Linked DNA regions of Homo sapiens: all the other regions are linked to region 4. The links come from fine-mapping of genetic effects on gene expression. A gene starts in region 4. Each other region holds a variant in brackets. All regions are shown on one strand. Distances are between the middles of the regions.

Evidence for each region. PIP is the estimated chance that this variant, and not a neighbour inherited with it, causes the effect.
Region 1: its variant is fine-mapped to the expression of NAP1L4 in whole blood (TOPMed, PIP 0.98).
Region 2: its variant is fine-mapped to the expression of NAP1L4 in whole blood (TOPMed, PIP above 0.99). The same link has a PIP of 0.9 or more in blood mononuclear cells.
Region 3: its variant is fine-mapped to the expression of NAP1L4 in sun-exposed skin (GTEx, PIP 0.96).

What each region holds. Positions count from the first base shown.
Region 1 is chr11:2,934,955-2,943,055 of GRCh38, forward strand. No RefSeq gene overlaps it. Among named protein-coding and RNA genes, the nearest start is that of PHLDA2, 9.6 kb to the left of the region's middle. RefSeq lists a silencer at 5,155-5,331. The variant C/T (reference allele first, on the strand shown) is at 4,357.
Region 2 is chr11:3,010,511-3,018,611 of GRCh38, forward strand. It overlaps CARS1 (cysteinyl-tRNA synthetase 1), which reads right to left. Exons shown (of 23, transcript NM_001014437.3): 14 at 7,898-8,001; 15 at 7,347-7,444; 16 at 6,596-6,785; 17 at 5,271-5,339; 18 at 1,685-1,766. Among named protein-coding and RNA genes, the nearest start is that of CARS1-AS1, 15 kb to the right of the region's middle. RefSeq lists an enhancer at 3,905-4,404. The variant C/T (reference allele first, on the strand shown) is at 4,584.
Region 3 is chr11:2,954,320-2,962,420 of GRCh38, forward strand. It overlaps NAP1L4 (nucleosome assembly protein 1 like 4), which reads right to left. Exons shown (of 16, transcript NM_005969.4): 9 at 5,451-5,590; 10 at 4,080-4,225; 11 at 1,425-1,447; 12 at 208-327. Among named protein-coding and RNA genes, the nearest start is that of SNORA54, 5.5 kb to the right of the region's middle. RefSeq lists an enhancer at 6,524-7,030. The variant T/C (reference allele first, on the strand shown) is at 3,223.
Region 4 is chr11:2,989,192-2,997,292 of GRCh38, forward strand. NAP1L4 (nucleosome assembly protein 1 like 4) reads right to left here and starts at 3,138. Exons shown (of 16, transcript NM_005969.4): 1 at 3,063-3,138. RefSeq lists enhancers at 1,707-2,563, 3,108-3,402.

The DNA of each region.
Region 1 (8,101 bases), 54 kb before region 4:
GCTTGAAGGAGTGAACCAATGAACAAAGGAACAAACAAAATACAGGAAGGGAGAGAGGGAGGACTGAGGTGGCCCCATGCCCTGCACAGGGCTCAGATTGCAGAATCGCTGGGGCAGCCTTCTCACAGCGCAGATGCTCACCCTCCTGGCCTGAACTTCTCATTCCGCCGGTCTGGGGGAGCCCTGGCAGGTGTATTGTCATTAATTATTTCCAACGTTAAAAAATTACCAAAGATAGGCCAGGTGCTGTGACTTGTGCCAGTAATCCAGGGCTGCTTTGGGAGGACCAAGTGGGAGGATTACTTGAAAACAGGAGTTCAAGACCAGCCTGGGCAAGACAGCAAGACTCCATCTCTTAAAAAAAAAAAAAAAAAGTCCAGGCGCGGTGGCTCACGCTTGTAATCCCAGCACTTTGGGAGGCCGAGGCGGGTGGATCACAAGGTCAGGAGATCAACACCGCAGTGAAACCCCGTCTCTACTAAAAATACAAAAAATTAGCCGGGTGTGGTGGCCAGCACCTGTAGTCCCAGCTACTCGGGAGGCTGAGACAGGAGAATGGCGTGAACCCGGGAGGCAGAGCTTGCAGTGAACCGAGATCGTGCCACTGCACTCCAGCCTGGGTGACAGAGCGAGACTCCATCTCAAAAAAAAAAAAACACGCCTACCAAAAATATTAACCAATTGTTGATATAAAAAGTAAAAAAGAGGCTCGAATTATTTCAGAATTGATGCTGGGCACAGTGGCTCGCGCCTGTAATCCCAGCACTTTGGGAGGCCAAGGCAGGCAGATCACTTGCAGTCAGGAGTTGGAGACCAGCCTGGCCAACATGGTGAAACCCCGTCTTTACTAAAAATGCAAAAAAAAAAAAAAAAAAAAAAAAATTAGCCGGGCATGGTGGTGCACACCTGTAATCCCAGCTACTCAGCAGGCTGAGGCAGGAGAATTGCTTGAACCTGGGAGGTGGAGGTTGCAGTGACCTGAGATTGCACCATTGCACTCCAGCCTGGGCAACAGAGCAAGAAAAAATGAAAAAAAAAAAAAAATAATAAAAACAAAATTGAGTGTTCATCTCTCATGTCCCCACCTAGGGCCACTCTCATCCTTTTTTGTTTGTTTGTTTGAGATGGGGTCTTGCTCTGTTGCCCAGACTGAGTGCAGTGGCGTGATCTTGGCTCACTGCAACCTCCGCCTCCCAGGCTCAAGCAATCCTCTCGCCTCAGCCTCCTGAGTAGCTGGGACCACAGGTGTGTACCTCCATACCCAGCTAATTTTTTGTATTTTTGTAGAGACAGGGTTTCACCGTGTTGCCCATGCTGGTCCTGAACTCCTGAGCTCAAGCAATCCACCCATGTCAGCCTCCCAAAGTGCTGAGATTACAGACATGAGCCACTGAGCCTGGCCTCTTTTTGTTTTATTATTATTATAAATTTTTGAGACAGGGTCTTGCTCTGTCACCCAGACTGGAGTGCAGTGGTGCAATAATGGCTCACTGCAGCCTTGACCTCCTGAGGTTGTGATCCTCCCACCTCAGCCTTCTGAGTAGCTGGGACTACAAGGCACATGCCACCATGCCTGGCTACTTTGTATATTTTTTGTAGAGATGGGGTCTCACTGTGTTTCCCAAGCTGGTCTTGAACTCCTGGGCTCAGGCAATCCGCCTGCCTCATCCTCCCAAAGTATTGGAATTACAGGTGTGAGCCACTGTGCCTGGCCTCATCCTTTTTAAAAAAGCATTTACATTTCCTTTAACAATTGATTTTTGTTTGTTTGTTTTTGAGACGGAGTCCCACTCTGTCATCCAGGCTAGAGTGCAGTGGCACGTTCTTGGCTCTCTGCAACCTCCGCCTCCTGGGTTCAAGTGATTCTCCTGCCTCAGCCCCCTGAGTAGCTGGGACTACAGGCATGTGGCACCACGCCCGGCTAATTTTTTTGTATTTTTAGTAAAGATGGGGTTTCACCATGTTGTCCAGGCTGGTCTTGAACTCCTGCCCTCAGGTGATCCACTTGCCTTGGCCTCCCAAAGTGGTGGGATTACAGGAGTGAGCCACAGCACCCAACCTCCTTTAATAATTAAATATAGGATTGCCCTGTGATCCAACAATTCCACTTCTCATTCACATGCTCACAAGAACTAAAAGTTAGAGTCTCTCCTAGAGATCCATGCACACCCATATTCCCAGCAGCATGCCAAAAGGTAGAAGCCACCAAGTATCCACTGACAATGGGCACACACGATGTGGTCCACACACACACTGAATAGTCACTGCCTTAAAATGGAAGGGAAATCTGGTCGGGCACGTGGCTCACACCTGTAATCCCAGCACTTTGGGAGGCCAAGGCAGGTGGATCACCTGAAAAATTGGCCAGGCGTGGTGATGCCTGCCTGTAATCCCAGCTACTTGGAAGGCTGAGGCAGGAGAATCGCTTGAACCCAGGAGGCGGAGGTTGCGGTGAGCCAAGATTGCACCATTGCACACCAGCCTGGGCAACAAGAGTGAAACTCCATCTCAAAAAAAAAAAAAAAAAAAAGGAAGGGAATTCTAACACAAGCTACAGCACGGATGGACTCTGAGGACACTATGCTGAGTGAAATAAGCCAGACACAAAAAGACAAGTACTGAATGATTCCACATGTACCAGGTCCCAAGAGTCGTCAGATTCAGAGACAGAAGGTAGGAGGGCAGGTGCCAGGAGCTGGAGAGGACAATGGGGAGTTTAATAGGGACACAGTTTCCATTTGGGGAGATGAGAAATCATGGAGGCAGATGCTGATGGCGGCTGCATGACAGTGTGAATATGCTTAGTGTGAATATACTCAGTGTGAATACGCTCAGTGTGAATATGCTGAGTATGCTCGGTGTGAATATGCTCAGTGTGAATATGCTCAGTGTGAATATGCTCGGTGTGAATACGCTCGGTGTGAATACGCTCGGTGTGAATATGCTGTGTGAAAATGCTCGGTGTGAATACGCTTGGTGTGAATACGCTTGTAATATGCTCGGTGTGAATATGCTTTGTGTGAATATGCTTTGTGTGAAAATGCTTAGTGTGAATACGCTCAGTGTGAATACGCTCGGTGTGAATATGCTCGGTGTGAATATGCTCGGTGTGGTGTGAATATGCTTGTAATATGCTCGGTGTGAATATGCTTTGTGTGAATATGCTTTGTGTGAAAATGCTTAGTGTGAATACGCTTAGTGTGAATACGCTCGGTGTGAATATGCTCGGTGTGAATATGCTCGGTGTGAATACGCTTAGTGTGAATACGCTCGGTGTGAATATGCTCGGTGTGAATATGCTCGGTGTGGTGTGAATATGCTTGTAATATGCTCGGTGTGAATATGCTCAGTGTGAAAATGCTTAGTGTGAATACGCTTAGTGTGAATATGCTTGGTGTGAATATGCTCGGTGTGAATATGCTTGGTGTGAATATGCTTGTAATATGCTCGGTGTGAATATGCTTTGTGTGAATATGCTGTGAATATGCTCAGTGTGAAAATGCTTAGTGTGAATACGCTTAGTGTGAATACGCTTAGTGTGAATATGCTTAGTGTGAATACGCTTAGTGTGAATATGCTCGGTGTGAATATGCTTAGTGTGAATACGCTGTGAATACGCTTAGTGTGAATATGCTCGGTGTGAATATGCTCGGTGTGAATATGCTCGGTGTGGTGTGAATATGCTTGTAATATGCTCGGTGTAAATATGCTCAGTGTGAAAATGCTTAGTGTGAATACGCTTAGTGTGAATATGCTTGGTGTGAATATGCTCGGTGTGAATATGCTTGGTGTGAATATGCTTGTAATATGCTCGGTGTGAATATGCTTTGTGTGAATATGCTTTGTGTGAATATGCTCAGTGTGAAAATGCTTAGTGTGAATACGCTTAGTGTGAATATGCTCGGTGTGAATATGCTCGGTGTGAATATGCTTAGTGTGAATACGCTGTGAATACGCTTAGTGTGAATATGCTGTGTGAATATGCTTAGTGTAACTATGCTTAGTGGCACTGAACTGTGCACTTTAAAAAATGGTTAAGAATGTAACTTGTGATGTACCCTTTACCAGTTTTAAAAATGCATTTACATATGAATATCCATGCAGGCGGGGGTATGAGCTTGTGTCTCTTCCTCTGTCTGGGCCATCTTCCAGGAACCCCCCACCCCAGCCCTCATTATCTGGAATCCTCCATGTCTCAGCCACCCCTTGTGATGGTTGGGCTTGGGCTGGGTCCCTGTTGCTGTCATCTTACATGGCACTGCCTTCCTGCACACCAGACATGGCACTGCTGGGCTAGCAAGGCCCTCAGATGTGTGGTAACTGCCAAAATGGCCTGCCAGTGGGGCTGTTCCTATT[C/T]ACCCTTTCCCCCAAGGGCTGCAATGCCAATCTCCCCATGGCTAGGCCAATGGTGGGCACTCTGTACTTAAAAAAAAAAGTCAATCTGGGCAATAGCTCACGCCTGTAATCCAACACTTTGGGAGGTCAAGGTGAGTGGATCACTTGGGTTCAGGAGTTTGAGACCAGCCTGGCCCACATGGTGAAACCCTGTCTCTACTAAGAATAGAAAAAATTACCCTAGTGCAGTGGCATGCACCTGTAATCCCAGCTACTCGGGAGGCTGGGGCAGAAGAATTGCTTCACCCTGGGAGGTAGAGGTTGCAGTGAGCTGAGAAAGTGTCACTGCACTCCAGCCTGGGCCATAGAGTGAGACCCTGTCTCAGGAAAAACCAAACAACCAAACAAACGAACAAAACAACAACAACAACAACAACAAAACCCCACAATCTGGTGGTCAAAAACTGAGGTCTTCACACACATTTCTCTATCCCTGGGGTGGGGGCAGCCATCTCTCTGGGTGTCTGTGGCCTTTGGCGTGGCTGTCTTTTCCCCTCTTCATGTGCTTTGGTCTGTTTGAAAGACCCCTTTCATGGACTGAATGGTGGCCCCCAATAAGACATATCCATGTTCTACTCCCTGAAACCCACGAATGTTACCTTTGATGGCAAATGGGTGAACATGACCTTAGTGGCTAGGGTGTGATATAGGAAAGGCCCCTGAGAGCAGGAGCTTCCCCTGGACTACCCAGGTGGGCCTCACAAGGGAGAACTATGGAGAAGCAGGCATAGGGGTAGGAGGCCACGTGAGACAGAGGCAGAAATCGGAAGGAAGTGGCTGCAAGCCAAGGAATGCCTGGAGCCCCCAGATGACGAGGAAGGGTCCCCACATAAGGTCTGGTGTTCTGGTCCTTGGGGAGGGCAGCCCCTGCTGAAAAGGGGCAGGTTGAGACCCAGGGACCACTTCAGGCCCTCGCTGGCGGCCCCCAGGCTGGGGGCAGCAGACTCTAGCAACTCTGGCCAGTGCCTGCACCTGAGGCCCCATCTCCAGGCGTTCCCTCTTGTCCTCCCAGCCCTGCACCCGCCTTGCTCAGTGAGGCACTGTCCTCCCTCCTCGGACTGGCTTCCAGCCAGGCAGGCACTGGTGAGGGCCGGTGTGGGCAGCCCTGCCATGCCCAGGGTCTGGGTTCTGAGGAGGTGAAGCTTCTCCCCATGTCCCAGATACAGAAACTGAGACCTAGGGAGATTTGGAAACTTGGTGGACACCACAGACTTCTTGAGGAGCTCGACAAGGGTGATCTGTGTGGGTCCGCCCTGAGTGGGGTCCTGGACACAGCTGTAGCTGCCCCGTTTCTCCTGGGCTGGGCTGGGCTGGGCCAGGCTGTTGGGTTGTCATGGTAAGTAACATCCGGCTGCCACCCTCAGAGAGCCATGAGTCAGCATGGCCAGGATGGGCTAGTGATTGGCACCTTGGGGACAGCCTAGCAGGCGGGGCCTCCCTCAGGCACACCAAGGTGACCTGGCCTCGGCAAGAGGCGTCCAGGCCTCACCCTGCAAGAGCTGGGCCCTGGCTTCTGTCCTGAGACTCGGGTCTGCATCTCTTAAATGGGGAATGTCCCAGGCGCATGAGGTGCCTGGAAACCCACACCAAATTCAGCGCATCAGAAGCTCAGCCAGGGCCAGCCCGAGGAGGCGTCCTTCCAGGAGGCCCTGCTGTTGGGGGCCACTGCTTGCCAGTGTCTCCTGGTGGGTGGGGTCCAAACAGCTGGGCCTGGGGTCCCTTGGGCCCCCCACTCCACATGGGGATGCTCCCTGGGGCGGGCTGGGGAGGAGGTGCCTGCTCCAGCAGAAGGAACCTGGGAAGGCACCTGTTCTGAGGGTTTTGGGGCAGAGGCCGAAGTCCATGCCAGGCTGTGGCCAGGCTGGCCTGGCTGGCAGGGAACCACAGGCTTCTGCACACAGCAACCCCTTCTGCAGGCCCAGGGCTCCCTCAGGGCACTGCAGCTGGAGTTGGCTGAGTCTGGGACGGTCACTTCTCCCACCGCTGCCCCTGGCTGTTCCTCTGTTGCTCACCAGTTGCCCAGCCCTGAGCCCTGACTCAGAGCCAGGCAAGCCAAGGACCCAGCAGGGGCAGGTCAGAGGTCAGTAATATCAAGGTGTGCCTGGATGAGCCAGGCAGAGGCCAGGGGCTCCACCTACCCACCTGGCTGGCTGGTGGAGCCAGCTGGCTGCCCCCTACCCACCCCACCCCTGCCTCCCACCTCAGGGGCAAGCTTGGATCCTGGCAGCTCATGCTGACTCAGCCTGCCCAGCGATGGGGCTGGGGGCAGCCTAGGGCATTTTGAGAGTGGGACAAGATGGGTGGGGTGGCAGGAAGCCCTGGACCTGGGACTTGGGGAAGGGGGCTCTGGCCCCATGGGTGGCCCTTGGGCCTGGGGAGGTTTGCTGGGCAGCAGGACAGGAGCAGAGTGGGATGTCGGCTTGGTCCCAGCTCCACATAAACGGGAGTCATGAGCCTAGAGAGCAGACTGGCCAGGTAGGCTGACCTGGGGTACACACCACCCGCGGACCCACACGCCAGGCAGCTGTGGACAAGGGTCCCAGGTGACCCTGCTGGGGAAAGCAGCAGCCATCAGGTTCTAGGGAGCCATAGCTCCTGACTCAAGGGAAAAAACAGAATTTTAAGTGGAATCACCCTGTTTTGGGGACTTCTGAAAACTGAGCTTCAGGCCAGGCACGGTGGCTCACACGTGTAATCCCAGCACTTTGGGAGGCCAAGGTGGGTAGTTCACCTGAGGTCAGGAGTTCGAGACCAGCCTGGCCAACATGGTGAAACCCCATCTCTACTAAAAATACAAAAATTAGCCAGGTGCAGTGGTGCATGCCTGTCATCCCAACTACTTGGGAGACTGGGCAGGAGAATCGCTTGAACCTGGGAGGTGGAGATTGCAGTGAGCCGAGATGGTGTCACTGCACTCCAGGCTGGGCAATGGAGCGAGTCTCCGTCTCAAAAAAAAAAACAACGCTGAGCTTCATTGAGGACTAACTTATATACAACCAAATATACCCATTTTTGATGTAACTCAATGAATTCTGACAGACGTATACACCTGTGTAACCACTTCCATCCCTCTAAAGCGTTCCTTGGTCAGTCCCCCCACCCCAGATCCCTCCCAGGCAGTCACCGGCACTATAGCTTTGCAGGCTCTAGAACCGGACAGAAACAGGGCCCTCCAGGTCTTCTGTGCCTGGCTGCTTGCCGTGCGGGTTCTTTCCCTCCTTGCCCAGGAGCACCCGTGTGATGGCAGCTGACAGAAGCGTCTGAGCCACCTGTGCAGGGGGTGGGGGTGCCCCAGGCCCCACCTCCCATCTCCCGGGCTGCTCCCCAAACTCCTGCCCTGACCCCAGCGCCACTGGTTTTGAGTCTCAGTTCCCGCACAGGGTGAACAGTCACAGGAAGGGCAGGGGCTGGGGGAGCCCCAAGCGGGGTGGGGTGGGTGGGGCGGGGCTGGACGGTGAATGTCTGCCTCCCCAGCCAGGGGCTGAGTCGGGAAAAAGGAGGGCCTGGGCTAGCAGAGCTGAGGTTCTGTGGCAGACCCCCTGGCCTCCAGGACCAGAAGGGAAGCAGCCACCCTTCACCCAGGCCAGGCTGGGCGGCCGCCACAAGCCCCCACTTCCCAGCTGCCTTCCAGATGGTGGCTCTGGGCAAACCTCTCAACCACTCAGCGACTTTCGGTGACCACTGATGGCTGAGGTTCCTGAGCTGA
Region 2 (8,101 bases), 21 kb after region 4:
GTGTTGGAAAGGGGCGATGGTGCTTATGTGGTCAGGGCAAGTGCGCCCACCGCTGCCTGTTAGGGGCTCAGTCAGGCCCAGGCCCCTCTCCAGAGCACTTGTGGCAGCCCAGCAGCCCAGCAGCCCGGCCAGCCTCTCCTCTCACCCAGTGTCCTGCACTCTCCTGCAGCCTGTGGAGCCCCGAGCTCCCGAAACTCTTTCCTGCCCTCCTGCCTCCTGCTCCACTGTCCCCTGCCCGAAACAGGCCCAGATTCGGCTCCTCCGCCTCTCGGCCCCTCCACCCACCCAGGCTTCCTGATCCTTCCTCAAGGTGCAGCTTCTCCTAGAGGCTTGCTGGGTCTCTGTCTGCTCTGTCTTCAGCATGCCCTGCCTGGATGCTGCCCCACTGTGACCCTCCATAATGGGCTCTGCACAGATGGGGACCAGGTGGATCCTAGGTCAGACTTCCCACCACACAGAGGCCCCCTGGGGAGGGAGAATTAGCACAGCAGGTGATGGAGTAGCACTCGAGGTCAGTGTGACCCGGCCAGGGCTCTCCTTTCCTCTTTTGGAGGATCATGGTGGTAAATGAGGCAATGTGCAGAAAGCAGTGGGCAGGGCCCAGCACATCCTAAGTCCTCAGTGTGTGTTCCCAGCTGTGCTGTTACTCACCAATTCAGAACCACTCACAGGAAGAAGCAAAGGCCTGCCTGATGCTGCTTTTTGCTGTGTTTAACACTTTCTTAAAACTGGCAGTCAAAACGAATGCTCAGATTCAGCACTTTCTAAGTCTTAAACCACACACATCTCAGAAATTTCAAAAGATGAAGGAATGGCCAGGCGCGGTGGCTCACGCCTGTACTCCCAGCACTTTGGGAGGCCGAGGCGGGTGGATCACGAGGTCAGGAGATCGAGACCATCCTGGCCAACACGGTGAAACCCCATCTCTGCTAAAAAAAAAAAAAATACAAAAAATTAGCCGGGCGCGGTGGCAGGCGCCTGTAGTCCCAGCTACTCAGGAGGCTGAGGCAGAAGAATGGCGTGAACCCGGGAGGCGGAGCTTGCAGTGAGCCGAGATCGCGCCACTGCACTCCAGCCTGGGAGACAGAGTGAGACTCCATCTCAAACAAACAAACAAACAAAAAGATGAAGGAATGGCTGCTTATGGACAGTGAGGGGCCACTGTGTGAACCCCAAGTTCAAGCATTCATCTGGCATGCCTGAGCAGAAAAGGGAACCCTGGAAGCTGCAGCTCGGCTCCACTCGGCAGCAGGAACGAGCCACACCTCAGCGCACCCAGCCTACCAGGTCACCAGGAACAAAAATAAGCCCCAGTGTGAGCCAAATGGCAGGTGGTGACTGGGCTGGTCAGAGGACCCACCATTCTGCCTCGGCTCAGAGAAGGAGAGGCAAATCAACCCTGGCCCATCATATCACATCCTCGGTCCCCACTGCCCACTCAGCTGCACTCACTCGAGGATTCTGCCCTGCAGGGACATGTGGGGCTGTGGTGACTGGAGCGTGTGGTACTAATGCACCTGGTGGGTCCAGGCCCGGGATGCCGTTCAACACCCTGTGGTGCACGGGGCAGCCTTCCCAGAGGATGATCCGGCCTGAACGCCATAGTGCCTCGGGGGAGACGCCCGGTCCGGGGAGCCCAGTGAGGGGAGTGGCTCCCACACTCTTTCCAGCAACTGGTCCTCACCTTTTTGCTCTCGGGCAATCTTCCGCACTCCTTCTCGGAATTCTGATAACACCTGAAGGTAGGGCATGACTGTGGCCTCGAGCTGCGGAAAGAACAGTTTTGGTTCACTGAGAGCTGCTCACACTCCCATATTCATAACAGAATAATAGCTCAGTGGCCGCGACACAGGGCAGGGACTGGCATGGGCAGTGCTGCTGTGCACACTACAGCTGTGACCGGCATCCCAGAGCCTGGACGCTCTCGTCCCTGACACACAGTCCCTGCTAGGTGTGCGAGTCACACAGACTCTCAGGCCAGAGAGCATGAAGTGAGCTTCCTTTCTACTGCAGCAGGTGGGTCTGCCGCCGCTCTGCCCAGCTGCTGACAGGCCCTGCTTTCCTCAGGTCAGACACGCTGCTGTGAAACAGCTTGTCTTTATGGTTTCAGAGGGGCCAGCTCTGGGAGGGACTATTTCCTAAGGAGCCCAAGGACATCACTCCCCAGGCTGGGGCCTTACCTATGCTGAGGCTGGCGGCTCCCGGGCCGTGCTTTCGTCTGATCTGTGGTCACACATACACTTGTTTAAGATGAATGATCTCCATTAAGCACCTACTATCTACATGCACATTAGCAGCTACACGTAGATTCACCACCCACAGTAACACTGGGGAGGTGGCCACAGGATAGAAAAACCTTTCTACTATATTTCCCTTTTTTTTTTTTTTTTTTTTTTTTAAGACGGAATCTTGCTCTGTTGCCAGGCTGGAGTGCAATGGTGTGATCTCGGCTCACTGCAACCTCAGCCTCCCAGGTTCAAGCGATTCACCTGCCTCAGCCTCCCGAGTAGCTGGGATTACAGGCAAGCGCCACCACGCCTGGCTAATTTTTGTATTTTCAGTAGAGATGAGGTTTCACCTTGTTGGCCAGGATGGTCTCAATCTCCTAACCTTGTGATCTGCCCGCCTTGGCCTCCCAAAGCATTTCCCCTTTTTTTTTTTGAGATGGAGTTTTGCTCTCATTGCCCAGACTGGCATGCAATGGCGATCTCGGCTCACCGCAACCTCCACCTTCCAGGTTCAAGCGATTCTCCTGCCTCAGCCTCCCGCGTAGCTGGGATTACAGGCATGCGCCACTACGCCCAGCTAATTTTGTATTTTTAGTAGAGACAGGGTTTCTCCATGTTGGTCAGGCTGGTCTCGAACTCCCGACCTCAGGTGATTCACCCACCTCAGCCTCCCAAAGTGCTGGGATTACAGGCGTGAGCCACCATGCTGTGCTAGCATTTCTCTTTTTCTAATAGGACAGAAAAGGTTTTAGGCTTTTGAGCAAGGTTGCTCCCTGCCCCTTAGCTGATTCAGCAGCTCAGTAACCAAAATAAAAACATTAGCAAGTGCTGGCTGGGCGCGGTGACTCACAACTGTAATCCCAGCACTTTGGGAGGGCGAAGTGGGTGGATCATGAGGTCAGGAGTTCAAGACTAGCCTGGCCAACATAGTGAAACCCCCGTCTCTACTAAAATACAAAAAAAAATTAGCCGGGCATGGTGGTGCATGCCTGTAGTCCCAGCTACTCAGGAGGCTGAGGCAGGAGAATCACTTGAACTCGGGAGGCAGAGGGTGCAGTGACCGGAGATTGCGCTACTGCACTCCAGCTGTGGAAAGAAGAGTTTTTGTTCGCTGAGAGCTGCTCACACTCCTATATCCATAACTGAATAATAGCTCAGCGGCCACGACACAGGGCAGGGACTGGCATGGGCGACAGAGTGAGACTCTGTCTCAAAAACAGAAACACACAAATTTAGCAAGTGCAAAAGTCAGGCAGGCTAGCAAGCCCTTAAGTCTAAGCCAAGCTCCCTGAGACCCAATTCTGCATCTGAACTTTGGACTTCTTGGGGGTTTTCGATCTGTATCTCCACCCACCACACAGCCAGCCCAGACAAGCCTTGGGGAAGGACAGAAAGGGAGGCATTCACCCCACTGCTAGGCTCAGTTCCAGCCCTAGGGGCACTGGAGGGGAACTCTCAGAATGGCTGCAGGGGTGTGTCTCAAGAACGCCTGGGGCTGCAACCCCCACCTGAGCATGCTAGCAGGTGGCTGTGTGGCGACACTGAGGTGGTACAAGATGGAGGAACTGCCTCCCTTGCTCCTAAAACCATTTGGATTTGGAAGTTAATCCATGAACGTCAAATGGCCATGATGTGTGGGCACAGGACGTTTTGTCAGCAGGCTCACCATTCGCCGCAGCTGCTTCTTCGCAATCAGCTGACTGCAAAGGCCAAATGAGGCTGCCTGGGGGATGCGGATGCGTGTCCACAGCACGCTGAAGGCACCCCCACAACCACAGCAGCCGTTAAGATGAAAAACACTGCAGTTCAAAGGCAGGCTGACTTTAACCCAGGAGGTGTGTTTTGGTTTTTTGTTTTTAAAGAAAATAAATATCTTAGTATCATTTGCGCAAGAGAACAAAGAAGCTATGTGGGTTTTCTTAAAAGCACCAAAGAAGGTTCATATCAGGAAGTCTCAAAAATACCACACCAACTACCACAACCAAGCTAGCTAGCGCTAAGGCTGGCAAAAGGCACCAGGCACATGGGCTAGGTGCTCTGGCAGGACTTCTTACAACACGGACTGTTTTCTCTTTGCAAGTTGGTTCCTGGGGGAGCATCTGTAAGCTCCATCCGCATGGGGGCTCTTCACACCACTTGTCATTAGGAAACAGGATTTTAAAAAGGTTTTGCATTTTGACTTTGTATTAAGCTCCTGTTTTAATTAAAATTACAGTTGTTCTATTTAAATATTTAGATCTGCATTCTAATCGAATAGTCAAAGAGCATTCTTGACCTGGGAGCAGGTGGAAGTCCATCTTTAAGAAGCCTGACTGTGGGTGTGTCAGACGGGACAGGGGTTCTACAGCAGAAGGA[C/T]AGGACTGACAGTGTGTGTCTGCTCACATGCCAACTGCAAACAGAAGCCAGCAACAGACTGCCAGGGTGTTCTGGATGGATTTTCTCACCGCACAGACCCACTAGACAGGGGGCTCTACAGGATGACCTCCCCCTGACCTGTGGGCCACAGCTCTGGGGCAGGGGGTCCTGGCTCAGGCCATGTGGACCGACCTGGGCTCAGGGTCAGGACTGGGCCTGTTAGGGCATCTGCCCAGCCCCATGGGGACCGAGGCAGACAGTGGCGTATCTCCCCATCAGTGTAAATTCTGTGCTGTTTGTGAGCTCTGCAGCCTTTCGATGAAGCATTTACTGAATACAGGTCAGTATATGTGACGAAGTCATGTGTGTTCATGATGCCAAGTGGCCGCAGCAAAATGCAAATAAGCAGCGGCCTATGTAGTTGGGGTCCAAGACCAAGCTCATGGGACAGCACAATGGCAAAGTGCCCCAAACCAACAGTCACAACCAAAGCAGACCCTCCACACCGGCAGGGCAGCTGACCACACTTAGCACTCTCAGAGCCAGAATTGCCATTTAGCTCGAGGCGCTGTCCGGAAGGGTCTGGTGTGGGTGGGCAGACAGAGGAGGGGCAGTTCAGAGGGACACAGAGGGGTAGGGAGTGGGGAGGGAGCAGGTGCAGAAGGCAGGACCCTGCATGCTACTCACACTGAGGCTGGTTCCAGGCCCTCCGACCGGGAATCCCAGGGAGCTGTCCTCTTCTACGGCCCCAAAGATCTAGGAAAAGAAACAGATGGGACCTGAAGCTGCGGCAAGATGAAGGCGGCATGTGGCGAGCAGCTGTGAGCTGTGTTCCTCGTTCACGGGAGGGGGTGCCCCAAGACCAGGAAAGAGATGGAAGCAGCAGCTCCAGGAGCCCCAGAAACCCGAGCCTGAGGGTGCCCTCATTGCTCCAGGATGGCCCTGACTCACAGCTACCCTCTCCAGCTCTGTTTCAGCCAGAAGCCACTGGAGCCCAACAACAAGGAAAGAGGAGGAGAGGGGAGGGGAGTTGAGTCCAGGCCCTGCTGGCCTTTCAAGGTGCACTGCGGGGAAGGGCTCTGCACAGGATGTGTTCAGAGAGGAGGCCTTGTCCCTGGTTTTGCTTCTCTTTTTTTTTTTTTTTTGAGATGGAATCTCACTCTGTCGCCCAGGCTGGAGTGCAATGGCGCAATCTTGGCTCACTGCAAGCTCTGCCTCCTGGGTTCATGCCATTCTCCTGCCTCAGCCTCCCGAGTAGCTGGAACTACAGGAACCCGCCACCATGCCTGGCTAGTTTTTTGTATTTTTTTTAGTAGAGACGGGGTTTCACCGTGTTAGTCAGGATGGTCTCCATCTCCTGACCTTGTGATCCGCCCGCCTTGGCCTCCCAAAGTGCTGGGATTACAGGCGTGAGCCACAGCGCCTGGCGTGGTTTTGCTTTTCAAACTCCAAGATGGGAGTAGAGGGAAACGGAGTCAAAGGAAAGAAATAGCTCTGAGTAAGGACAACTATATGGATGTTACTTATTTTTGTCTGGTTTTGAGACAGGGTCTCCCCTCTATTGCCCAGAGTGGAGTGCAGTAGTGCAATCACACCTCACTATTCAACCTCCTGGGCTCAAGCGAGCCCCTCACCTCAGCCTCCCAAGCAGCTGGAAAACAGGTGTGTGCCACCACACCTGGCTAATTTTTAATATATTTTATAGACCCGGGATCTCACTATGTTGTCCAGGCTGGTTTTGAACTCCTGGGCTCAGGTGATACACTCACCTGGCCTCCCACAGTGTTGGATTATAGATGTGAGCCACTGTGCTCCGCTTATGGGTGTTATTTCTAACGCGTGAAAAGCACACCAGGAACCAAAGAGGACAGAAGCATATCTCCACGTCTCAGAGGTGCTGGGCACCAGGCACAGCACTGGGGGGCACCAGAGGCCTCTGTTCTCCCAGTCCTGGGGCCTGGCTCCTGTGTCCACACAGGCTGAGGGATACGCCTGCCTGGGGCCTGGCTTACCTTCAGCATATGGGTGAGGTACAGGGCGATGTTCTCCAGCAGAGCCTGGTTGGGCCTCTTCCTCACGGCTTTCCGGGCTGCCATATAGAGGTTGCACTGACTGACCAAGGCCCGCATCTCTTCCATGACGGTGCGGGTGTCAACATTGTCACAGAGGGCTTTGTGAATTGCTGTCTTCTTGTCATAAAAGCTGAGCAACAAAGAGGAAGGAATGTGAAGTCAGACCTGAAAACACACCATAGAAATTCCCCATGTGGCCAGGCGCAGTGGCTCACGCCTATAATCCCAGCACTTTGGGAGGCTGAGGTGGGCGGATCACCTGAGGTCGGGAGTTCGAGACCAGCCTGACAAACATGGAGAGACCCCCACCTCTACTAAAAATCTGAAATTAGCCAGGTATGGTGGCGCATGCCTGTAACCCCAGCTACTCGGGAGGCTGAGGCAGGAGAATCGCTCGAACCCGGGAGGTGGAGGTTGTGGTGAGCCGAGATCACGCCACTGCACTCCAGCCTGGGCAACAAGGGCGAAACTCCGTCTCAAAAAGAAAAAACAAAAAAGAAATTCTCCATGCACTTCAACACCCAGAGCAGCTCCCATTAGCAGAGCCGCCTATCCTGAATTAATTCTGCACAACGTACGACAGTGTCCCCAGCCCTTCCTCGACAGTCCAGGACACATGGTGGCCAAGATGCGAGGCTAGGCATAGAACATGGGCATGCTCAAAAACCCCAAAGAAATGGCACCACCTTACTTCTTATTCAGTTCTGCTTCTTCTTCTCCCCACTTCTCAAACTGACCAGTGATGTCAACAGGAGCGCGAAGGATATCTTTCACATTTAAGAAAAACTCCTGAAGTTAGAAAAATCAGTTTAACAGCATTTAGGCAACTTTTCCATCCTGAAATATCTGTTACAACTTTCTACTGCTGTGATTTTATTTTTGGTAAAAATCTGAAAGACCAGAATTACACAAGTGGTCAGAAAGAAAGGAAAAGATATTTCTTTGACAGAAACATGCTCTTGCTTTAGGTTTACAGATGCTCATTTGGTGGAAAGTACAAGTCAGAAGGACGTGCACTGCAGTGACTAGGAGGACGAGGCCTCTGTCCACTCTGCTGAGCCGTCAGCCATTTCAGGAGTGGCCCCGAGCCTGTTATACCCACTAGCATGGAGGTGCTTCCACCCATGTGCTGGTCTCCATTAGAGACATCGGGAGGCTGGTGCACCTATCACCACTGCACAAGGTGCCCACTGTGCAGGGGAGGCTGCTCCACCAACCTCCAGGAAGGGGCTGGGGACTCACATTCAAGAACTTCTCATATTGAAGCGCTGACTCCATGGTGTTGCTGGAGTAGTCCAGGGTGTCCTTCCACGAGTGCATGAGGAAGGCCAGCCGCAACTGCCGTGCTGTGGGGGGACACAAGACAGCCAACGCCCTTATTCTCCCGAGTGCTACAGCCATTACACATGTATGAGAAGGTGGTTGGGGGGTCTGTGGGAGAAGCCA
Region 3 (8,101 bases), 35 kb before region 4:
ACACCTGCTTTTCCTGCTCTGTTCCTCAGACTTCTCCTCTTCAAGCGTATTCCCCCCACAACAAGGACAGCAGCTTGGACTACATATCTGGCTGATGATGTAATAAAAAGATTAGGCATGGGGGTTTCCTAAGCCACAATTCAGGGCCACTCTGCACCAACAGAGATAAGCACCCAGGTGGAAGCCCCCCTTCCCCGAGCCTCATACATTGTCATCATCTTCTATGGCCTCCCCAGTGAAGTACAGCACAGCCCGCGGGACTATCCGCTCACGGAAAAAGTGTCCAATTTCAAAATCAGAGGCTAATGTGAATTCAGAATCTTCATCCTGAGGAGGAAAAACCTACGTGTTAACTCATTTTAATGGGATAAAAACATTCACTTCACCACCCTCAGCCAAACCTCAGCCCCTCACTTTTGATTTACTTAACTTAAAACACCAAACTCCTGCACTGCTGGGGGACAGCCACTAGACACTCAAAGCCCCTTTAAAACAACTTTAAGTAGCTTTAAAGAGCTACTGAAGCAAAATGGCAGAGAAAGTGGGAAGTGAGGGCCCTACAGCTCCACAACTTGTCCAAAGGTCTCACCCAGAGTAGGCGGTATCAGTCTCACATATGGGAAACAGGCAGTATTAAAGCACTGCACATTTGCTACTGAAATCAACATATGAAACACATACTTTTACTTAGATGTGTAATGATTTCAAATTAATCCCAGAGTTTTAGGAAACAGAAATGGATTTTTTTTTTTTAAGAGACAGGGTCTTATTCTATCACCCAGGTTGGAGGGCAGTGGTGCAATCACAGCTCACTCCAGCCTCAAGCTCCTGGGCCCCAGCGACCCTGGAACTACACAGTGCACCACCATGTCCAGCTAATTTATTATTTTATCTTTTGAGACGGAGTCTTGCTCTGTCGCCCAATGGAATACGGTGGTGCAATCTCAGCTCACTGCAACCTCCTCCTCTCGGGTTCAAGTGATTCTCCTGCTTGAGCCTCCTGAGTAGCTGAGATTACAGGCGCTGCCACCGTGTCCAACTAATTTTTTTTTTTTTTGGTATTTTAAGCAGAAACGGGGTTTCACCATGTTGACCAGACTGGTCTTGAACTCCTGACCTCTGGTGATCCACCCACCTTGGCCTCCCACAGTGCTGGTATTACGGGCGTGAACCACCATGTTCGGCTGGCTAATTTATTTGGTTTTAATTTTTTGTGGAGATGGGGTTGTGCTATGTTGCCCAGGCTGGTCTCAAACTCCTGGACTCGTGCAGTCCTCCCACCTCAGCCTCCCAAAGCATTAAGATCACTGGCATACCCAGTCCACACACAGCCAGGACTGGACTTTTTTTAACAAGTAGACAAGTAGACATTCACTCAGGAGAGACTTCAACAGGAAAATAAGACTATTAACAACAAATCTTACCAGTGATTCTCCATCCCCGGATGCTAGAAAAAGAAAAGACAAAACATATTTAAATTACAGTGACAACTCCCAGAATTTTAAAGCCCACACAGGAGGAAGCTGTGCTGGTAGATAAAATGTAACATTTCTCACCTCGAGGTTTAACAGAAATCCCCAAAGCCTTGCATCTCCTCACAGACATCTTTGCAAGCTCCATCCACCACTTCTGAAGCTGGCCTGAGTGCCTCTATGCCCCCCTCCCTTCTCCTCCTCCATCATGTGCCATGGGCTGGCACTCAAGCTTGAGAAGATCATTTTGAGAGAGTTAATATATTAACAGGAGGAATGGCAAACAGCCCCCAGGCTGTGGCCATTCAGTGCATTTGTGCTTTATGGGGAAACTTAACTCATGTCCCGCAGAACTATACATGATGGTGCAGGAAAGAGAAAGTCCTTAAGCCTTATAAGCTGTGAGTGTTACTAAGGCACTGCAAATCAGCGAGACAGAAACTGCATTTCTGTTTGTTTGGAGAGTGCTGGAATGCCCACCAGGGGCCCCTGTAGAGTGGCGCAATTCCTCAGCGAAAGCTGATGCTCAGACGAGCTAAGCCCACCAAGACAGATAGGGACTTCTAACCACACTCAATGAAGCTGTGCAACGTTCAACTGGTAGAAGATCCAACCCCCTGATTTTAGAAACATTTACTACAAGACCCTGAGCTTCATCAGGAGTTGAATGTTTACTCTGCTTAGTCTCATACCTGCCTTTTCAATCTTCACTGGGCTCTCCTCTCTGAGTCTCCCTTCCCATTAAGCGACCACAACCCTGGCAGCACTTGCTGTTTGCTGCTGAGACATGAATGTTGGGTGCGTAAACACCACCCATGAGTGAGGCAGAGTTCCCAAGCCTCGGTGTGCCAGCATCACCCAGGGGTTTTAGACATGGGTTAGGAGCATGGCTGGGTGTCTAAATGCTGGAGCAGCATGCTCCCCAGGGCACTCTGGCCCAAGTCATGAATAGTACAAGGACTCTGAACACTCATACTTCTGGACTGGCTTTGCAGTTTTAAGGACAAAGGAGCTGGACTCACTAGCTAATGCCTCCTTCACTTCACACCACAGGAGTCCATTTTGTCTGTTCCTTCACTACCCCATTACCTATTCCGCAGCCATCCTCAATTTTTTTCAAAGCACTTACCATTTGGTATTATGTGTTTGATTACTTTAAAAGTGGCTTTACTGATGGGATTTACATACCATTAAAAGGCATACACTCTAAATGTACAACTTTATGACTTTCAGTACGTTAATTTTAGAGTTGTGCAACCATCATACCCTAAAAGTTTTAGAATCTAAAAAAAAAAACACTTAAAAATTCCCTTGAGTCCATTATCAACTCCATTTTTATCCTAAAAATTATTTTTAAATCAGTTTTAAGAGAACTTCCTACACAAAGTGATTCCAGAAATTAAAGCCTCCCTTCTTCACGCTGAATTCACAGACAATCTCCAGTATGCCCAACCCAAGTGTCTAAAAGGAATCTTCCAAAAAAAGGAAATGTAATATCTAAATTTATGACTGCTCTCATTCCCCAAACCGTATGTATTTGCATCTTCTAGGTTCAAAGTCTAATTGCAGAAAATAGGCACCACAATTAAAATAATGGACTGAACTCTGAAGGGCAGCTTGATAAATAAGGGTGCTAAGCTCAGAGACAAAATCAAAAAATCAATCACTCAGACTGGAGAAGAGATCCGCCCTGTGGCCCCACATACAAACAAACACTCACTGATTATCTGCAGCAGGGGCTGGCATCTCT[T/C]CACTTCAAATTATGTTTTAGTTCATGGAAACTAAAGAGAATATGGATATTTTAACACTGACAAGTTGCTTGACCTTCACATTTTCTCGCGATTAGGAAATTATATGAAAAATCCCAAGAAATTTACTCTTAAAATCAATTGGTCAACCTTTACTAGCTCAAAGGTCTCATCTTTATTTTACCACTTAGGAAAATTTAAAAAATAAATAAATAAACAAAAAGAAGCAGCTTCCAAGCTGTGATTCTGCCGATGTTTTTCAAAAATGAAAGTCCCAACTACTTGTGTTTCTTACAATATATAAATTCCAAAAAATTCTATCAAATTATGCATAAAAAATTACAAGAAAAGGGGGACTAAGCAGATGATCCAAAAGCAGCACAACTAGAACCAGCGTACAGCAGTAACGGGTACCTGCAGAGCAAACCCAGCAGCTCTCCGAGGCTGGGAGTGGTCCCCGGGGGGTGCGAACCAGACACAACAGCGGGGCAGAAATGCCAGCTGGTGGAGAAGGGTGCTCCAGGTGTCCAAGTGAGGAAGCAGCCCAGGTGCAAATACTCGATTCAGTTTTCTTAAAACAGAACTGCAAGTTTTTGCCTGGGCTACAGCCAAGCAGAGTAAAGCTCTTCCCTTTCCTGCAGAAGATGACAATCCTACTCTTACTGTCCTAGCTACCTCTGCCCCCCGCGATAAACTTGCCAGCGCACCAACAGAACAGCCTGGGACACAGCAATGTGCCCCTACTGACCACACTTGCCTGAAAAAAGAGGACTAAAGTCTCTGGGTGTTAGGAATCTATCAGGTGACCAAAATTATTTTATATAAGAACATAATGAATATTAACAACCAACAGACTTGCCTTTCAATGGATTGAAGAAGTTGAAAAAGGACTCATTGGGTACTTGTTTCGTAATTGTTCTAACAGTGCCTCGACCCTTATGCTTCTGCTTTTTCTTGATGGTTTTGACAGTAACATTCTTTCCTTTCTTCCAGTCAATAGTACACCTACCAGGACAAGACAGCTGTCAGGAACACACAATCCATGAGAAAAATCCATTACAAATGCATGCAGGAAGCAAACCACAGCTCTATGCCAAACCTGGAAAACGAAATAAAACCAATCTGCAAACCAAATACAATGGCCCATGAAGTTCATCTGGAGGTTGGCAAAAAGAGAAACAGCCTGGTCCTCTTTCAACTTGGGTGTGACCACTGGAACTTCAGACTTCTGGAACAATGGTATTATTTTCCCAAGACATTTCATCAGGACTCTGAAATGTATATTCTGTGGCAAAGCCCCGTCAAGTCTGCATGATGCACAAGAACTTGTCCGCGGTTTCCCAAGGAAGGAGGAGTTGCTGCTGTTCAAAGCAGCCAACTGAGCACGACAAGCTGAAAAAAGGAAAGAGGTGGCCACCGGGAATACTGATGGCCAGTGCAGACCACTCCAGCCCCAGGGATGCTGGCGAGGGCTGAGCACAGCACGCTCTCTCTAACACACAATCACCACAGACCCAGGCAACACCTGGCAGATCTCAATACTGCCCGCTTAAGAACATGCTTGGTAAGGCCAGGCCTTTTTCTCACATGATGTCCTGGCCCTGGAAAATCATCTTTCTAAATTACTCTAGCAGGATTTTAATAAAGTCCTGAATTAACAATTACTATTTACTTCTGGTAAATAAACGTAATTGTTTCAAGTCAAGACTAAAACCATTTCTCAGTCAACCCAACCTGGAGAAATTAATTCTAAACCAAATTCTCTCTTTAGTGATTTATAAAGACTGAAATCAGTGAGTCAAACAACAGCTATGCTGCCCCCACCTATTTCCAAAGCAATCAGCTGATCAATATAGCCCTGGACTCAGACTCATTCATTCAATAAGTATTTATTTGCTGAGGGTAATCCATGGATTCAATTTTAAGAACTTCAATTCACGATGTCTAGAGAATCCACTACTTTCATTAAAATGAAGAAACAGGGCACTATCCCAAAGGCTTGCATGTGCAACCACGTGACTCATTTCCCAGGTTCAGCCGCCATCTCCAAGTTCTGCACTATGAGCATTCCCAAACTGAAAGACTATTGAAATATACATCTACCAGGCTTTTAGGCTTTTAAGCAGACTCAAGACTGTACTTTATTCCTTACTTCTATCTTACCCATCAAGTTACAAAATTATCTTTTGATTTTGTTTCAGAAAAACAAGGTAGAATGACATTTTCTTACCCGTCACAGTCCACAATCTCAGGACCTTCAAAGGAAAAGGGATCAGCCTTATCTGGTTCTGATTTCATCTTGTAGGTTTTTGTCAGGACTGAGTTGGTAAAGTAGTCGTTGGGTTCAAAGTGGAACTCTAACACAAAAGACTAAAAGTAGAAATTCAGAGTAAGCACCAGTTAAAATAGAAAAATAACGAGGACAGATTGCTTGGAGTACACAACACTTACTAGAAGCTATTTTGGGAAAGCTCAACAGATAGGGCCATGAACAAGAAAAACTTCTCCACCGCAAAAAAGACTAGCGTGAGGTTAAAAAAACCAACGATGGACTGGCGGGAAATATCTGTTCAGTTCATGAGTAAGGGGCATGTTCCCCCTCCAATGCCTCCTCACCAATAGGCGTCAAGCTCTCCTAAGAAATCCTAGCTTCTCTTAGCTGCTCCCAGCCCTTGCTTCCTGGAAGGAGGGAAGGTGACTAGGGGAAAGTAAGGGGACCAGCAGTCCATCCTCCTCCTGTCCTTTTCCGCTCAGCCTAAGCCCCAGCCCCCACCCTGCTGGGGGAAGCCAGGGTCTCTACTCTGTGCTGTGCAGTGAAAGCAGTGACCCACAGCTTTTCTCCCGGGAGGTGGGTGGGAGAAAAGGACAAATCTCTACAAGGACAGAAAGCTCATCCCTCACTTACAAAGCACGCTACAGACCTGGAAGAGACGTGAGCACACCGGGAAAAAGGATGCAAACATGAACGCAGGCATAGAACAACCAACAGCAGCAACAAGGCATTCATGCTCACGAGTAACAAAACACATGAACACCAAAATGAGATGCCTTTCTTTGGGGCAAAATGTACAAAAATATGTAGACCCGGCCAGGATTTTGGGGTACTGAGCACACTCATGTACTGTCGACAGATTTTATGAAGGACAATTTGGCAATATCAAAAAAAATTAAATTAAAAGGCATATTCCCTGACTCAGTAATTCTATTTTGAGGAATTTGTTCTATTTGAGAAAAATACCTGGATGGATGCATCGATATGTGCAAAGACATTGACCTCATCCCTATTTATAGAAGAAAAACATGGAAGATGCGCTTGGTTGAGTAATTTATAGACAGTTTACAAGACCAGTTCTACGCTCAGACAGCCTGGATTCAAATCCCATCTCTGCCTACACTGCTAGGCAACTCGCGGAAGCTACTCAATGTCTCCGTGCTTTAGTTTCCTCATCTCTACACTGGAAATAACTCTCTCCCTCTCTAGGAGCTGCCTTGGTGGTTAATCTGTATCACTTAGAGCCGCGTTTATAGGCAAGGCTGGCTAAATGTCAGCTGTTTCCATTTTCATTGTAATGGTAAAACCATCAACGGGGGGGAAATTAAGAGGACTAAAAAAAATATACAGCAAAAAAAGTTTATACATTCAAACAAACCACTTGCACAAAGGAGAAGTGAAAAAACAACTTTCAAAGAAAGGTGGAGGAGGAGGCGGGGCATGAGGGCTTAGGAAGTCAGGATCAGGGAGACAGTCTAGTCGGTTTCTAGAAGGGATGACAGCAGGATCTGGCTAGGAGCTCTCCACTGGCCTTGGCAAGAGCAAAGGAAGCGGGTAGGGCACTGCAGATGAACCACACAAACGAAAGGCCAGTCACCTGCCTGGCAAAAATCACAAGGAAAGGAAGAGGCAGCTACAGGGAATCAGCATCAAATAAAATGCCTATTTCTCTCCCAACCCTCCACGGCTTAAAAAAAAAAAAAAAACCAACATAAAGAGGGAAGACAAGTAGCCAACCAATGGAGAGACTGCTATGATTCCAGAACTGTTTAAGGCTGTGACCACAGTGTGGACAACCAACCCAGGGCATGGGGTGGCCCCAATAAAACAAATAGTACTATTAGACTTGTGGTCCTTCACCATGTCCTACTCATTTTTTCCCCTCCTTTTTACTTTCTCTTTTAAAGACCAGTTCTCCCTATGTTGCCCAGGCTGGTCTTGAACTCCTGGGGTCAAGCAATCCTCCCACCTTGGCCTCCTAAAGTGCTGGGATTACAGGCATGAGCTACCACACCCAGCCTACTTTTCTATAGATAGATTCATGTTTCTTCCTATTTTCCTTTTTTCTCTCCCCTCTGCCTTTGTTCAGTCAAGAGTAACCCAAAGACAACTGAAGATGATTCAAGAAACTGTTTAGCTGCCCAAATGAAAAGTGGCTTGAAAATAAGACTGCTTCATTCACACACGCACTACAGCCAGGTAAGCCATAAATATGCTAACCATGCTCAATCTTACAAGCAACTAAAGAAATGCAAAATTAGGCAGGGCCTGAGTGGCTCATGTCTGTAATCCCAACTGAACGACCTTTGGGCCTTCTAAAGCTTCATCTTCTTTGACTGGTAAGTACACTGAAAGGAACCTAAACTAAGGAAACCATCAAACATTTAATTTAACACAAATTTGGGTTCAAGTATGCTGATCATAATGCAACAATTTACAATGGGGGAGGTGGGGCATGTAGGGGAATGTTAAACTGTTTTATAGCCAATGGCTGCAGTAACAACTATTCCCCCAGCCAAGCCTGTGTGATGTGGCAGCAGGGTGACACTGTGCACACACCATGTGGTGTGGCAGGAGCCGTGTGGCACACGTGTGCACTGTGTATCCAG
Region 4 (8,101 bases):
TACTTCCTATCACCATAGTGGTCGAAGAATCAAACGAAGTAATATCAGATTTCTACTCTGGAAGCCTAAAACACTTTTCCCTTTAAGCAAAAAAGCAAGCATTCCTTAGCTAGCAATCTCAGGCCAAACTCCCAACAAGCTCATCTCTGCTGTCTTATTCAAATATAAACCATCATGGTTTCAAGCAGTAACAGCACTCGCCTATTTCACACAGCTGACGCCTCTTAGGCCGTCAGGAATTTAAATCACCTTCTTGCCCACAAAGTATTTTTCTTCCAAAACAAACTGAAAAATATAGGCTCTTTGGCAACATTTTTGGAAGTACAACATAAACTTATCACAATAATTTTTAAACTGCAGACAACTAAAGGGAAGGAAGAAAAGCACTACTATATATACATACATATTTGAGGTCACCTCCTCCTGATGCTAGAGACTATCAACTGCTCAAAAGAAGGAAAACAAAATAAAGATTTCAGTCCCCACACTTAGCTGCGAATAGCTAACAAAGGGAATTAACATGCGGTCAATAACAAGAGGCTACTAAAAACTCTGACAGGTTAGGAAGTTTTCATTTCAGTTTCAAATTCAAATTCATACTGTAAAGTGGTGATGAACACATCCCATCCGCAGGTACTTAACCTCCATACAAATAAGAACTACCTCTCATATGGGCAAAAAGATCAAAATTCTACAGAAGAATCTGATGGCTAAATGGCTAATTTGCAAAACACAATGCCCTGTACATTTTGAGGACATCCTAAAACATGTGTAAACTTTTCAGAATTCAGTTTACCAAAGTTATCAAACTTAAAAATGATTAAAATTTATTTGCTACTGCAAAGAATTCAACCAATTTCTCCAATGACTACTCCATATTCATTTTGAAAAACAGTACCGGATTTAAAGCTTACACAACAAAATTCACAAAAGTGTTATATGTGCCTATATGACATATAGGCACAAATAACTGCAGACATTCTGAAGCTAACACTGCTCAACCAGGAAAAAAAAAAGACTGCAATTGGATATGTAATAACAGCTATTTAAGACGGCAGTAACGTGTTAAAATGGTTCATAAAAATCACATCATAAGGCCCTGAAATTCTAGTAAAAATATCTCTAAGTAAACTTGTGAACTACTACTAAATAACTAATTTTCTCTCTCTCTGTAGTCACTCATTTTATCTTTGGATTACTTTCCCATTCTATCACCACGTTGCTTTCTCTGAACTTCATTTTACATTTGCATATTATTTATTCCATTAGCAATTGCTCATCCCAGTCTGAATCTCAAAATTCTACTATAGGAGGCATTTGGCATTCTGTGGAATAAGAGAATTTTGAGATGGAAATGATCAACCAGCTCAAAACCTCGTAAGCTAGAGTTCAGTTAAGCTTAGCACAATGATGAAAACAATTTCTCATTAAAACTTCTTTCATTCCCTCTACAGAAGCAGTAACCCTGGGTACAGTTAAAACTGCCTGGGTCTTTAAGCTTTGTCACCTCGGACAAGTCATTATACCTAACCTCCCAGGGCCTCAGCTTCCAGAGTAGTTAAATGGAAAAACAATAGCATCTATCTCAGGTTATTAGATTATGAAATGAGTTAACACACGCAAACAGGCTGAAAGAGTCCCTGGTGCGCAGTGCAGGTATTAGTCATTTAGAGGTATAGTTACTATTACAGGAAGGTAGTAACTTAGAAAGACTTACCTTTAAGGTCCAACAACCTAATCTACATATTTGTATATTTCTAAGGTAAGAGAATTTTTAAAAGTCTATTTTCACCCCGTAAACCTAATGCAGGAGGATAAGGCACGGGTTACTACAGGAAAAAGTAATGCAGACTGGGGGATGCGAACCAAAGCACAGACGAATGTGCCCCGACGATTCCTCCGAGAACATAATGAAATGGCGGACCTTCCTGCCAGAGGAGCGCACAGTCACCCAGGCAGGTGATGTGACACACACGTTAGGGTCTAAAGGTCCCAAGGCTGGAGTCCCCTTTACTGGACCCTAAACATGTCTGCCTCCTGCCCCGCAATCAGACTTAGAGAACTGTGGACGGTGGAAAGTCTTATCATGACCAGGCCATCCTTCGCTGGGGTGAACGGAAAGCATTCAGAAGGGGAAAATTGAAAACAACAAAGACTCTGGTCAGGTCAAAAAATACAAATGTGACCTCTTCCACCATCTCTGAACTGAAAGAAAAGCATGGCACTTTCCCATCCATAACATGTACAATTTTTTTTTTTGGAGATTTTGCTTTTCCCTTGTGAAAGACGGTTTTAAATAGTAAACAGACTTGCTGCCCACCTTGGCTGGGAAACCAAGTCCCGTGAGTAACTAGTCTAAGGCCACTCAGGCCAGTCCTCGGGGAGCGCACGCCGCCCAGCTCGCTCCCACCGCACAGCTCCCAACAGCTAAGAAGCAACGCCAAGGACTTTCTTCCCCGTCAGACATGCCCTCGGCCACACCAAACTGACATCAAAACCCCAGTTAGCCCAGCCTGACCCCACAGAGGCTCACGATGACAACCGCCCTACGGAAAAACTCAAATTCCTAAACATCTAATAAAGAAGTCCTGGACGTCTCCACCTTAAAAACGGGAAGCCTGAACGCTCCGGCGCGCCCGGCCGTGTAACCGCCACAGCCCCCGCACGCGGGGCGGGCTGGGCTAGCGGGAGATTTGAGCGGCCGCCGCCTCTCGCCGTCTTCGCCTCCTCCAAGGGGCCGCCGCCCAGGAGGCCGCCCGCGGCGCAGAACAAAGCGCCTTGACCTTCAGTGAGGCGGGCAGCCGGGCGAGGCGCGCCGGGAGTTGGGAGGGGCCTCCCGCCAGCGCCCCAGGCCCGGGCTCCAGGCCCCAAGCCCCAGGCCCCGCCGCGGCCGCCGCTGCCTGCCCCGACCAGAACGCGGCCCCGCCCCTGCCCCACCGCCCCGAGGCTTCCAGAGATGGCCGCCGCCGCGCCCGCGCCGGACCCGCGGCCCCACCCGCCCGTCCGGGCCCGGCCGCCCTCCCCAGCGCGCCGTTACCGGCCCAGCACCCGTGTCTCCGCACCTCACGCCTCCTGCGGCAGTGGCGGCGACCCTAGCTTCGCTCGCTTTGGGGCTGCGCCGCCGTGGCCTCCAACAACGCCGGCTCCCATTGGCCGAGGCTCCTAGCTCCTCTCTCCGCGAGCAAGACAGGCTGCGATTCGCCGAGCGCGGCGCAAGTCAACTGCGCTTCGCGCCGCAGTCAGCAACCAATCACAAGCCTCCGAAGAAACGCCGCGCCATATGCAAATATTCCTCCGCGCGGCGCGCGCCCTGCGTTCCTCCGCCTCTTTAAATGGGGCGGGGCAAGGTGGAGACCGCGTGTGTGGTTCCGGGGGGTCCCGGGTCCCCGCTCCCGGGACCTTCCCCGGGTGGCACCACATCCTCGCGGGACACTGGGCACCACCCCTCTCCGTGGGCCCCGGCCCCAGCCGTCTTTATCTCCTGCGCCCTCCCAGTTCCCTAGTTCAATCCCGTCCGCGGCGGGTCGGTGCCTCCAGCACTCCGTGCGCCCGCTGATGTGAGAACCCCACCTCCCATGTCGTCCCCTCGCGCTACTCCTTGAGAACATCGCGGAGGGCCCCTCCGCCTGGGAGCCGTTTTCAACCAGCCCCGTTAGTGGTTGGGACGTAAGCCTAACCCCCGCTCATCCCCCAGGTCCCAGGTTGGAGAACACTTCCTCTGCGAAGAGGTCGGGGCTGGGTCACCTCCGCGGACAGGACGGGACTAGCCACTGCCTGCATCTCTTCCCCCACGCCCTGAGCCCCGCAGTGTCCCAGCAGCCTAGTTCTGGCCTGCGGGAGACCCTGTCGGACAAGGAGGAAAAGCAGTGCGCACTGGGCCCTCAGATCAGCCCCCTGAAGCAGAGCAGGGCAGAGGGCTGGGGAGGAGCTGGCCTGTTTCGCCCGCCCTGTTCTCCCTCTCATGGTGCCCTCTGGGCTGGGGTGAAGGTACCAGCCCCAGCCTGTGCACATCACATTTTGTAGAAAGGCATCCAATTTGATTGGAAAATAACCCCTACGCTGGGACTTTTGAGGCTGGTTCATTTCCATGTTCAACCGTGCCATTGGGGGTCTTCAAGTCTAATGTGCATTTTTTTCAGAAACGTTCTCTTTTGGGATGACGTTACTTTTGAAACAATTGCTAATTATTATTATTATTAGCAAGTTATTCCTGTAATGGGGAAAATTTGAAACCATTTAAAGGCTCCTGGTTGAGGGATTAAGAACATAGCGTCGGTTATAAACCTCAGAGGTAAGCTGGGAGGCTGAGGCAGGAGGATTCCTTGAGCCCAGAAATTCAAGTCCAGCCTGGGCAACATAGTGAAACCTCATCTCTAAAAAGAAATTAATGCGGAGCGCCGTGGCTCAGGCCTGTAAACCCAGCACTCTGGGAGGCAGAGGCAACAAGTCCAGCCTGGGCAACATAGAGCACCCTTCCCCTGCTCCAAAAACAACAACAACAAAAAATTACCCAGGCGTGGTGGCTCAGGCCTGTAATACCAGCTACTTGGGAGGCTGAGGTGGGAGAATTACCTGAGCCCGTGAGGTCAAGGCTGCAGTGAGCAGAGATTGGGCCACTGCACTCCAGCCTGGGTAACCAGAGGGGGACATTGTCTCAAAAAGACAAAAAAAAGGCCGGGCGCGGTGGCTCAAGCCTGTAATCCCAGCACTTTGGGAGGCCGAGGTGGGCCGATCACGATGTCAGGAGATCGAGACCATCCTGGCTAACACGGTGAAACCCCGTCTCTACTAAAAATACAAAAAAATTAGCCGTGCATTGTGGCGGACGCCCTAGTCCCAGCTACTCGGGAGGCTGAGGCAGGAGAATGGCGTGAACCCGGGAGGCGGAGCTTACAGTGTGAGCCGAGATCGCACCACTGCACTCCAGCCTGGGCGACAGAGCGAGACTCCATCTCAAAAAATAAAAAATAAAAAAAAAACTAATTAAAACAAAAAACATAAAAACCCCTCAGAGGTGACCGGTGCATGGCTGAGGCCTGACCCACACAGCGTGCTCAGTCCTGTCTGGCCATCTGTGTTTTAGGAGAGGGTGTGTGTGCTCTCAATTCCTATTTTACTTATTTAGACTTTCAGACTTTTCTACAAAGGTCATGCTTTATGCTTTGCGGAAGCATAAACAATGATAGAAATGACACAAGAACCTGGGCATTTGAAGTTTGGAGGGTCCTTCCTCCCATCTAATAAAGTCTCAAGACCATTTGCAGTAATGGGATCCCCCTGCTCCTGGATGTTGGGGTTGGTGGGGGTGGCATCCGGGTGGGTGGATCCTCTGAGGGAGCTGGGCCTTGGGGCTGGGGGCAGCTGGACCTGCTCCCTGGGAGATCTGCTGGAACTGGAATGATTGTGGTGGTGGTGTTTTTCTCTTGGTGGTTGGTGGTTTCTCTCCTTGGAAGATTCTCATTTGGAAATAGAGTCTTCACAGATGCAATTAGGTAATGAGGTCGAGTGGGCAGATTGCTTGAGCCCAAGAGTTCGAGACCAGCCTGGGCAACATGATGAGATCCCATCTCTACCAAATATCTAAAAATTAGCTAGGCATGGTGGTGCATCTATAGTCCCAGCTGCTTGAGAGGCTGAGGTGGGAGGATCACTTGTGCCTGGGATTTAGAGGCTGCAGTGAGCTGTGATCATGCCACTGCACTCCAGCCTGGGTGACAGAGCAAGACCAAGACCCTGTGTCAAAACAAAGAAGTCCCCAGATGACACTGACATGCAGCCAGAGCTGAGGGCCACTGGGATCAGGACTCCCAGGGTAGCTGGCGCTTGGTGAGTTTCATTCCTGTTTTCCCAGCGCTGCCTCTGCCAGGCCTCAGGCATGAGCCCACCTGTCTACAACCCCTCTGCTGCCTCAGCCTCCTCCAACCTGGAGATCAAGAGTCCCCTCCAGAGGCTACCTTGCCTGTAGTTCTGCTCTTGGCTGCCTTGTCCTCACTGAGGCTCCGGGAGACAGTCCCGGACAGACACCACGTGTTTCTTCTTCACATTGCCAGCACCCGGAAAAGTGCCTGGCACTTGGCGAGCTGTGCCCTTACCTGGGCGCTACTGACAATGGCTACACCTTGGCCTGGAAGTAGAGGCAGCAATCACTGCCCCATTCAACAGAGGAGAAAACAGAGAAACCCCTCTAACGCCCCCAGCTAAGTGGCTCTGGCCCTGGAGGGGGCGGCCATGCCCTTCACCTGTGGTGGGGGCGCTACTCCTCAAAAGACCTCGCAGCCGCCAAGAGCTGGAGCCGAGGCCTCAGAAATGCCCAAAGCCCCCTCAGTAGGCTGGGGGCTCAGCCTGTGGGGCATTAACAAAGTGGGGCCCTGGAGACATCCAAGAGAGGTGGCTGGTTTCTCCTGGTATATGGAGAACAGAAAACACCCATGGCGTACTCCACACAAGAGGGGTGCGCAGACAGGGAGTGCCTTTGCAAGCTTCCCGGCCTCAGAAAGAAGGCATCTGGAAGACTGTACCCCAAATGTTGTAGGGATTTGAGAGGTAGGGCACGGGGTCTTTCAGTTTCTACTTTATATTGGAAGTTTTCCGTATTATTTATTTTTAAATAATGAATACATGACGTTTTTATAGTAAAGACACCAAAGATTGCTCTTTGGGGAAAAACAGGAAGATGTAAATCTGGCTCTTACAGCTGAACAGAGCTTTCATGTACAGAAAAGAAACACTTTCCACAGGCAAACTAATATTATACAAGAAAAGTGTCCACCCCACGTTGTTCCAGAAGGATCTGCTGCAGCCTGACAGCAAGAGATTGCAGGGTAGGGAGGTGCTGGGGTCCTCTTGGGGGCCAAGCCAATGGCCTGGGCCCAGCCAGCCTATTGTCACTGCAGGCCCTCGGACCCAGCCTGGGGAGACTGGAGGAAGTCAGGGAAGGGCAGAGAGAAGGCGCACCGGGCAGTGGGCCCTCAGAACGGGGAAACTCCAGGCAGAAAAGCGGCCCAGAATCACTCTGAATTGGGGGGCGTGAAACAGGGGCCACAGCCTGGCCCTACTGCAGTCCAGGTGGAGCCAGGCCTTCACCAGCTGTGGGGACCAGGCGTGCCCCTGGCAATCTGGATACGTTTTTGTGCAGCCACCACTGGAAATGGGGCACACGCCACTCCTTCTTGCCTCCTTGGATGGCACCGCGGCTTTGGGCCAACCTCCGCTCACCCCAGTGGTGGCAGCTAAAGACAAGGGTATTTCCTCATGGCCCAGTTGTCAGGATATTTGATACATGGTTTCCAGCACAGGCCAGTAAAGAGGATACACTGTGGAAGGGATTGCTGCTGCTGCAGTGCCGGCTGCACTTCATCAGTTTCCTTGGCTAAAGGATACTGAGTTACAGGTTTCAGGCTACTTTGTATCTCATTAAAGACACCTCTCCATGCAGCCGCCATTATCACACTAACAAAATTAGCAAAAATCTTGACTGTCATCCAATACCTGGTCATTCAAATTTCTTGAAATTTTTTTTTTTTTTTTTTTTTTGAGACGGAGTTTCGCTCTTGTTGCCCAGGCTGGAGTGCAATGGCGAGATCTCGGCTCACCGCAACCTCCACCTCCCGGGTTCGAGCGATTCTCCCGCCTCAGCCTCCGGAGTAGCTGGCATGTGCCACCATGCCCAACTAATTTTTTTGTATTTTTAGTAGAGACAGGGTTTCTCCATGTTGGTCAAGCTAGTCTTGAACTCTCCACCTCAGGTGATCCGCCTGCCTCAGCCTCCCAAAGTGCTGGGATTACAGGCATGAGCCACTGTGCCCGACCCCCTTTGAAATGTCTTTACAGCAGGTTTGTTCAAATCCTTCAAAGATTATCCCTCAAACCTGGTGGTTTTGTTTCTCGAGTCTCTCCCAGTCCTTCTCTTCTGCCCTATTCTGCTCCCTTTGACGCAGACGTATTGAAGATGCCAGCCGGGCATCTGGCAGAATGCCCCACCTTCTGCACAAATGTGGTGGCTGCTTCATGGCCTCACCTGCATTCTCCCTCTGTTCCCAGTATTTCCTGCAGACAGGAAGTGAGCTGGACAGCCTTGCTCCTGAGGGGGCTGTAGCCCGGC